Regions from separate parts of the Homo sapiens genome. Here region 2 is linked to region 1. Evidence: fine-mapped expression QTL. A gene starts in region 1. The other region holds a variant in brackets. All regions are shown on one strand. Distances are from middle to middle.

Region 1 (4,382 bases):
AATGTTTACGAACACCAACACTTTTTGCTTCCCCTGGTCCTGTTCTGCGGATGTCAGACCCCAAAGCTGAAAAAGAAATGTTCCTGCATAATCACCCCCTTCCCCCAAAAGAAAACCCAAGTTCCCTGGACCAAGCTCCTGGACTGCAGAACAAAGCAGACTCCCAGCAGAGTGGTCTGGTCTCTCTTCCTCCAGGGAATGGTGGGCCAGGTCTATGTGAGGCTATAACCTAGAAACTTTCCTCTGCCTCCCTCTCCTCCTCCTTTGGCAAGACAAGGAGGGGAGAAGGTAAGGATTAAGCCCAAAAGATCTCCAGAAAAAGCCAAGCCTCTGGGGGGAGTCCTAGAGGGTGAAGCCAGGGATCTGCCTGGCAGCCAAGCAGAGCAGAGGCAGCCACCCTGAGGGAAAGGTGGTTCAGTCGGGGTTCAGTGGGCACTGGCCATTTTCCAGGGGCATGGGAGGAGATGGGTTGGAGTTGGACTCCCTAGGCTGCAGTGTGCCTGGCGTGGACCCCTGACGCTGACTCACCCCCAGGGCCCTGACACACGCTGCAGCTTGCAGTGCCTGCCAGACCACCACTCTCATTCCACAGGACCAGGATGCCAGGCACGTCCCACTGCATCAGAGCCACCCTGCCCCCTTCCACCTGCCACTCGGGCCCGCCTTTGGGGCACTGGGCATGGCTTTTTTCAGCACCTCTGCTGGTCACAGAGATGTTTCTAGCAGCCCCAAAGCTGGACTTAGTCTTAAGTAGGGAGAGATGGTTGAAAGGATTAAGGGCTTCCCTGCTTCTGTCACCCCCTCTAATGAAGTGCCAGGTTATGGGGATCCAGACAGATTGGATGGAGGACAATCTATTCCACCTGGGAGAGGCCCCGCAGGGCGGCAGCAGTAGGGGAGGGAGAAGGGCACCCTTTTGCTTTCCAGGTCAGACCCCAGTTCACCTTTCTGGCTTCCTGGGCGCCCCCAGATCCTAAGGACTTCCTCCTCCTTATAAGCTAACTCAACCTGTACTACCTGCCCACGGGGCCTCTGCCCTTCCCTCCCCACTGCAGTGGCCCCTCCTGGGCCAGCACCTCTTCTGTCCTTGCACTCCCTTCTCCTGCTGCGGGGAGAGCACCTACTCTGCCACCTCAGCCAGGGGTAAGGGAGGACACTGCCCTGCCAGGAGACACCCCACGAGCCATGGGCTGGGGGTGTCCTGGAGGCACCTGTGGAATGTGGGGATGAAAAGGGAGGAGACAGGATGAGGGGGCCTGGCTTAGTGGGATGTGAAACGATAAAGCTCCACTTTTTAGTTGAAAAATAAAAGCCCTGTGCCCCAGAGGTGGGGGAAGGAGCATAGGCAGGGGAAGGGGGCACCCCAAATGGGAAAGGTACATGGAAGAGTCCAGAAAAGGGAGTCGGGCTGTCAGCACCCGCCAGGCTGCGAGCCTAGCCCTTGGGGACAGAGCTGAAGCAGGGACGGGGCGTCCTAGGTCGTGCTGAGTCATGAGATTTGGAGAGAGGGGAGGGGCGCCTCCAGCCCCTTCTTGGGCCCCTGCCCCAGCTCCTCGTGCCCGTTGCTTCCAGATGGCCCCTGCAGTCTGTCTCCCCAACCTCTCCCTGACCCAGGGTCTCCGGCTCCCAGCGCCCAGACCCCACCCCCCGCCCCACTTCCCACGACGGCGGTGCCAGGGGTCCCCGAAGCTTGAGACTGGGGCAAAAGAACCTTCCTTGGAGACCGCTAGGGCTGGCGGGGGCTGGGCTAGACGCGAGTGGGTTCGTCCCAGGGAAAGGAGAGAGGGACGGGGGCGCAGAGCCGGCCGGTGCAGGGGACGCGTGGCCCGCCCCTCTCTGCAGCAACCCGCGGGAGGAAATCTGCCCCCAGCCCAGCCCCAGTCCCTCAGAGGAGCCGGCTCCTCGCCCCTCGGGTCCGACTCCCCGAGACGAACCTTCCATCCGGACGCTTCCAAACTCCCCCAAAGGACGGGGCAGACTCCCGGCCCCCTTGGCCTCAAACTTCCCCAACCCTACTCACCTCTCGGGACCCAGACCACCCCGTGGCCCCTCGACTCAGTAGCAGGAAAGGAGAAACTTTGGAGAGGGAGGTCCGTGCCCCCACCGGCGGGGGTATGGACTTACCGGAGAGCGACCCGAAGGAGGCGGGAGAGATCCGGGGTCTCCAATGTGAGGGGGCGTCGGACGGCAAGGACGCGTGGCTGGCGACGGTTTCGCAGGGGCGCCCGTTCCCCTGGGGGCGCGAAGTCCCCGCTCCACCGCTGCCCCAACTCGGCTCCGAAGTGCCTTTGCCGCAAGACTTGCTGAGCTTAGCAGTCTGCGCCGAGGCGGCAGAGGGAGGGGGCCTGATCGATGGGCGCGCGCGGCGAGCGCTGCAGTGAGGGGAGGAGACCAAGCGGCGTGGGAGGGCGGGGACCGAGGCGGAGGAGGCCCGGAGGAGGCGGAGGGCGGGCCTGCCCCCCGGGACGGGTTCTTTCTGCGCAGCCCCCCAGGCGCTCGGCGCCCCCGCCTCCTGCTCAAGGTCAAGGAGGCTGCTTCCCCAGCAGGAAGGCGGACTGGAAAGGAGCTCTATACTCCCCACCCCAGAAGGCTGGTCTCCTTTCTAGCCAGCTCCTTCTCTCCAACTTCCCGAACCCACTGCAGCTCAAGGCTAAATTATTGGGCTCAGGAGCCCCCATCCCCATGGCCATTTTGGGATCCCTGAGCCCCTAGCCTCCCCTCCTCCCCTCTCCGCTTAGGTCACCGCTACCTATATTGGCCACCTGGATGGTGGGGGCTTCTGAGCCTAAAGGTTGGGTGAGAGAGAGGAGGATGCTTGAGAGAAGACAGCGGTGCCTGAGGCCTATGGAAATAGAACAGCGGAGGGGAGAGTAAGAACTGCAGGGTGACAAGGAGAGAGGAGCTGGAAGACGGTAGAAAGAAAAGGAGGACGCTACTGGTTATTAAAGACAGGGTGTTCACACATGTTAGTTTGCTTAATACGTAAGACATCCCTTTAAGGTGGGCATTTTGCGTGGGCAGTTTGCAGGTGGGGAAACAGTCCCTGAATGGTGCGTTGGACCAAGGAGCTGCAGACAGTTAAGTGGTGGCATTTCGGAAGAGCCTGGGAGAAAGAGAAGGGTGGCAAGGGCAAAACAGAGCCCTTCCTAACCTACCCAGGAGCTGCCAGGGCAGCACCAGAACTTCCTTACAGCACAATTTGAATATCCGCTTTAACTCTTTTGGAGTTAACTTTTTTTTTTCTTTTTTTTTTAGACAAGTCTCACTCTGTTACCCAACCTGCAGTGCAGTGTGCAGTGGCGCGATCTTGGCTCACTGCCACCTCTGCCTCCTGGGTTGAAGGGATTCTCCCGCCTCAGCCTCCCGAGCAGCTGGGATTACAGACGTGCGCCACCACACCCGGCTAATTTTTGTATTCTTAGTAGAGATGGGGTTTTGCCATGTTGGCCAGGCTAGTCTCGAACTCCTGACCTCAAGGGATCCACCCACTTCAGCCTCTCAAAGTGCTGGGATTACAAGCATGAGCCACTGCGCTTGGCCTGGAGTTAACTTTTATAATAGGACTGTAGCATCCTGCCTCGCTTTTGGGTACAAAACCGTACATGGCCTGAGGTCAGTCTTCAATACGTACTAGGTGAGTGAGTGAGAGGTGGAATGAATGCAATATGAGGAGATGCAAAGAACAAGTGGGATTCAGGCTTTGGGGAGAGAAGAGGCAGTGGAGGGCACTTTTCAGATCACTGTGCCAATAATACCAGGTGTTACTGGCAGACCATCCCCAGTTGGAGACTATCCCCAGTTTGGCTTGCCTCAGAGCAAGGCGGCAAGTGGCTGCCGACTCAGTGGATGTTACGAAAAAGGTGGGGGAAGACCTCTGGGGAGTCCTCAATCAGGCTGAAGCTGTGCTCACAGCCCCTGAGGCACAGAGGCCCTCCCCCTTCACCTGTGGAGCAGCCAGAACAAGGGCAGTGGAGGAAATGGGGAGCCAAGTTACAATGGACTAATGAGACCTTTACATTCAAAGAGGTTACCCACCACCCCCACCCTTAGCCAGGTGTGTTCCAGGACTTGTTGCTTCCCCAAAGGGGCTGGCTCTACTCTATTCATTCCTTCCTGCTCCCCATGCCAACAACCAGTATCTGCAGGACTCCAGCCAGAAAGAGGGCTGCAGCCCCCTCGCACAGAATCAAGCCAAGCGAACTGGCCTGATGCGCTTCAACTTTTCCACGGCAGCAGACTCAGCTGCCTACTGTTCTGATCAAAGCCTTGTGTCAATCTGGTGCCCCAGCTTCTTCTCCTAAGCACGTCAGAGGAAGCCAGCCTGCCTTCCCAGGCTATTAGGAGAGTCAGAGCTGTAATCAATTTGGTTAAATGAAAAATGT
Region 2 (4,382 bases), 130 kb before region 1:
ATTTCTCCAAGGCGCAAATGGCCCTGGCTTCATTTATTCCTTTCCTTTCTATCCTTTTATATTTTTCCCTTCCCCACCCCCTCACTCAATGGTATAAAAGCTAGGACAGAGCACCTGACCTCAGTTGTCTTTGGCCATTGTGGGAAGTCATTATTCTGGAGACAAGAAAATCATCACTCTGGTGCCTTGGTGGCAGCACCACTGCCTGCTCCCTGGAAGGTAGACTATGGCATAAGTGTCAGCTCATTGTTTTCGTCTCCCACTTATCTTCCCCCTTCAAAGTGATTTTCTTTATAAGAAAATTTGGGCTCTGAATACTCCATTCTGCCTCACTTCCTTGACCTTGTTTTCCTCTCTTCGCCCTGACACCTGCTTCTAATGAGAAATGAAGTCAGTGCAAGGAGGAATGAGAGGTGGGGAGGGGAGATTGTTGAGAGATGGACTAGGAAGTGGAAGCAGGCTGGAAAGACACATATGGCGAAAGTCAAGTATCTGAGGCCACTTGCAACATTGTGACAAAGAAGATGGAAGATAGCAGCCTACTGGGCTGTGAGAATAGTGGTGAATTTGATTATTTCCAGTGGTTAGATTTAGCAGAGAGATTTACTTTCTTAGAAATTAATAGGGGAAATGGCACTTAATAGAGGTTTAATGGAATGAAGTACTTTCAACCCATTGATGAGAGTCATGGAAGTTTAGAGTGGCAAGACCCAGAGGTCATTAGGTCCAGCTTTCTATTATTGTGTCACAGGGACCCCTGCTACCACAGCTTTCACCCATGGGCATGGTCAGGTAGCCTCTGGTGGCTATGCATTTATTACTCAAAAGTTGGGCAACTCTAATAACGAGAGAGTTTTTCCTCATATCAGCTGAAGTCTGCCTGTGGATTCTCCTTGTAGTCCAGATCTACTATCTGCAACTCTTTAACGGCACTTGAGATATGTGCAGTGGGTGGTCTCCCCCTCAGTCTTACTTTGAGCTGCTGTTACTCTAGTCCTTTAAGTCATTCCTCATATGGCATGCTTTTCTTACCTGTCACATCTTGGCCATCCTCCTCTAGACAAAACCAGCCTTTAAAATATCATGTCCAGGCCTGGAAAGAATACAAATCCAGTGCAAAATTAAACCATTAGTTCTTGATGATAACCTAGCATTAATACTTACAGTATTTTCTTTTTGTAGGAGTTTTATCCCTTGGTTCACTTGAGTGTGCAAGTCATTAAATCCTCATCATTTTAGGGTTGCCAGTGATATTCAGTGTTTAGAGTGGTTCATTCCCTTAATATATACTACCTCTGTCTGTTAATTCTTTCCTAACATGACATGTAGCTCTCCATGGTCCTCCCTCTGAAACACCACATGCTGTTTAAACTAGAAGCTGTAATTCAAGATCCCAATTCCACCAGGTGCAGTGGCTCATGCCTGTAATCCCAGCACTTCAGGAGGCCGAGGTGGACAGATCACGAGGTCAGGAGTTCGAGACCATCCTGGCTAACACGGTGAAACCCAATCTCTACTAAAAATACAAAAAATTAGCCAGGCGTGGTGGCAGGCGCCTGTAGTCCCAGCTACTCAGGAGGCTGAGGCAGGAGAATGGCGTGAACCCGGGAGGCGGAGCTTGCAGTGAGCCTTGATCACGCCACTGCACTCCAGCCTGGGTGACAGAGCAAGACTCCATCTCAAAAAAAATAATAATAATAAATAAATAAAAAATCCCAATTACAGAACAGGAGATATGTTTCCTCTGACAAAACCCCATTTTTAGAGT[G/A]TATAAAATTCTGTCTTTCATTTCCAACCATTTTTCAAGAGAAGCTGCTACTATCTTGAGACTTCGTATTATCATGGGAGTACTGTAAGTTCAGTTCTCAGGGAATGCTAAATTAGAGTAATAAGTTTTATATCCTTCATTCTGGGAGAGGAAATCAACATAAGGTGTTGACTAATTGATTATCCTGGAACATTTTGAATATTGGGGAAGGAAGATGATACTTCTTTCTCAAGAAAAGAAAATTGGATTATTAGGAATACATCTTGACCCTTTTCCACTCAATAGACCAGGGAAAGGGGTTACAGAGAGCCTCCTCAGATCTGTTTGTGCCTTTCAAAAGTACTGGGGGCAGATTCTCAAAACTCTTAGATTGGTGTTGCATCCCTGCCACTTCACATGACCCTTCCATGTTAAAGCTGACTTTTCTTGCCAGAAAGTTTTCCTTGTGACAAGAAATTTGCAAGCTTTTCAATCTCAGGAATACTGGATTCTATAGCCAAGAACTCATGAAAGTAAGTGTAAACTATCCTAGGTAATTTCAGGTACTTTCTCTTATGCAATTAATTTTATTAACTGATTTCTGGTCTATCTCCAGAGATAAAATACCATTCCTTCACAACTGTATTGTCTGGAAGCCCCATGAGATGGTAATTATAGGCCTTCTACTAGCCAGCAGTTCTCTCTGGATACTGGCATCAGCAGGTCTCCTTTTTCTTGTGCTGCTTGGACAGGTACCTACTGCTGGCCTCTTCAGTGGCCACAATCCTCAGTCCTCACCTGCTGGTTTGGAGACTCATGAGCACCCCAGGCAGCTCAAGCTGAATAAATAGCTGCAGACATGGCCAACAACATGGGGCTCAGGTCTGTCACTTAACTTAGAGTCTTTACATGAAATATCAGAATGGGAAAGAGAATGTTCCTGGTAAAACTCTGTTTTCATTAATTTGTTATTTTTCAAAAACCGAGCCACACCTTTGGAAGTAATGATTTGGCCATTCCAGAGATTCTGGGGCTAAAGTTTGTTTTTCCAGGGCTGCTGATCCTTTTCCAGATAGCTCCAGAGTATGATGACCCCAGCCCCATCCCAATCTCTAGCGAAAGGGTTATGCAAATCTCAGGGTGTTGCCTCTAAAGAATCTAAAGAATAGACATGCTTTGGGCTTACTCAGTGTACCAGATTCTCTAGTGGGCCATTCTCATTTGATGTTCCCTAGAACCTCCCTGTCTTCCAACTGCAGGATGTGTTTACTTCTCTTCTGGGCTTCCCCTGGTTTCTGTCCTAGTTCCCACCCCAAGTTTAAGAAGACTTAGATTCATTTATTGCTATCTGAGGCCACTAGTGAGATTTCAGATCTCTCTTTTGCAACATTTTACCCATTTCCCTTCCCCAAACCATGTGCTTATTAGATGGTTCCACTCAGGAAGCAAGGAAGCTAAAACTCAAGTTAATGGTCTGTGGATCCCACGAAAGTGTGTGTAAACTACTGACTGTTTCTCCACTAGAGGCATTTAATTGAGCCAAAGATGATGGAAGAAGAAACTCTCAAAGCCATGTACTTTGTTAGGTGTCTGGATTTTTGGCCTGTTTGCAGCCTCTCCTAGCCACAGACAGACACTGTCTCCTCTCAGAGAAAGGCCAGTGTTTCGGTCCAGGCCACTGGTGAGTGTCGGCACCCTTGAGGTGGGCATGGAGTGAGCAGAAGAAGCCTGGAGAAGAGAGAACTATTTAAAAGTGTTGCCAGTTATTCAGCTTCCAGGCGGCTTTGCACCTCCAAAGGTGCAAAAAGGAAAAAGAAAGCAGAAAGGATTCAGCATTTAAGCAGAAAGAAAAGGGAAATTCTACTCTACCAGATGAGCCACTGGTTCCACTGGAGCTTATCAGTGAAGTAACACTGCAGGAGCCCTGGTATCCTTCCCTCAGAGATATCATCAGGGGCCCTCAAACCCCATTGTTTATGCCAGCACTGACCGCACTTTAAGCACACACTTACCAATCAGAGGTCGTGTAATTGGCCTAAATCTAGGCCCAGTTATTACTACAAATCTTAGTCACCATACTCTCTCGCCCAGGCTGGAGTGCAGTGGTGTGATCTCAGCTCACTGCAACCTCCACCTCCCAGGCTCAAGGGATCCTCTCACCTCAGCTCCCGAGCAGCTAGGACTGCAGGTGTGCACCACCATGCCCAGCTAATTTTTGAATTTTTTTGTAGAGATGGGGTTTTGCCATGTTGCCCAGGCTGGTCTGAAGCTGCTGGGCTCAAGCAATCCACCTGGCTGGGCCTCCCAAAGCGATAGGATTACAGGCGTAAGGGCCCACGCCCAGCCTACCATACTGATTTTCAAGGCAGGGTCTAACCCTTCATAAGATGTGAGTTCTTCCAACCCAATAAGCAGGCAGCTTTGAGGACAAAAAGGCAACATTAAAAGATAAGACCCTAGAAGTCAGAACATCTGTATTCCAAGGCCACCCCTTCTCCTTTTAGTCATGTGACTTTGGGCAGGTCACCCTCCCTGTCTGTAAAATGAGGTTGGACTGGATAATCTTTATGTGCCCTTTCCTTTTGGCTTAAAATTCTGTGATTTATTCATTCTTAGGAAGATCAGCATATTTATT

Which allele goes with the higher level. Positions count from the first base shown, and alleles are read on the strand shown. Sizes are in standard deviations (SD) of each study's normalised expression.
For the expression in tibial artery of the gene that starts at base 2,321 in region 1, allele G in region 2 goes with a lower level than allele A (small effect, 0.15 SD a copy in GTEx).

Evidence for each region. PIP is the estimated chance that this variant, and not a neighbour inherited with it, causes the effect.
Region 2: its variant is the best candidate, but not a certain one, in a credible set for the expression of SYT2 in tibial artery (GTEx, PIP 0.74).

The regions. Positions count from the first base shown.
Region 1 is chr1:202,708,134-202,712,515 of GRCh38, forward strand. SYT2 (synaptotagmin 2) reads right to left here and starts at 2,321. Exons shown (of 9, transcript NM_177402.5): 1 at 2,125-2,321.
Region 2 is chr1:202,581,204-202,585,585 of GRCh38, forward strand. It overlaps PPP1R12B (protein phosphatase 1 regulatory subunit 12B), which reads left to right. Exons shown (of 24, transcript NM_002481.4): 24 at 1-4,382. Among named protein-coding and RNA genes, the nearest start is that of SYT2, 130 kb to the right of the region's middle. The variant G/A (reference allele first, on the strand shown) is at 1,769.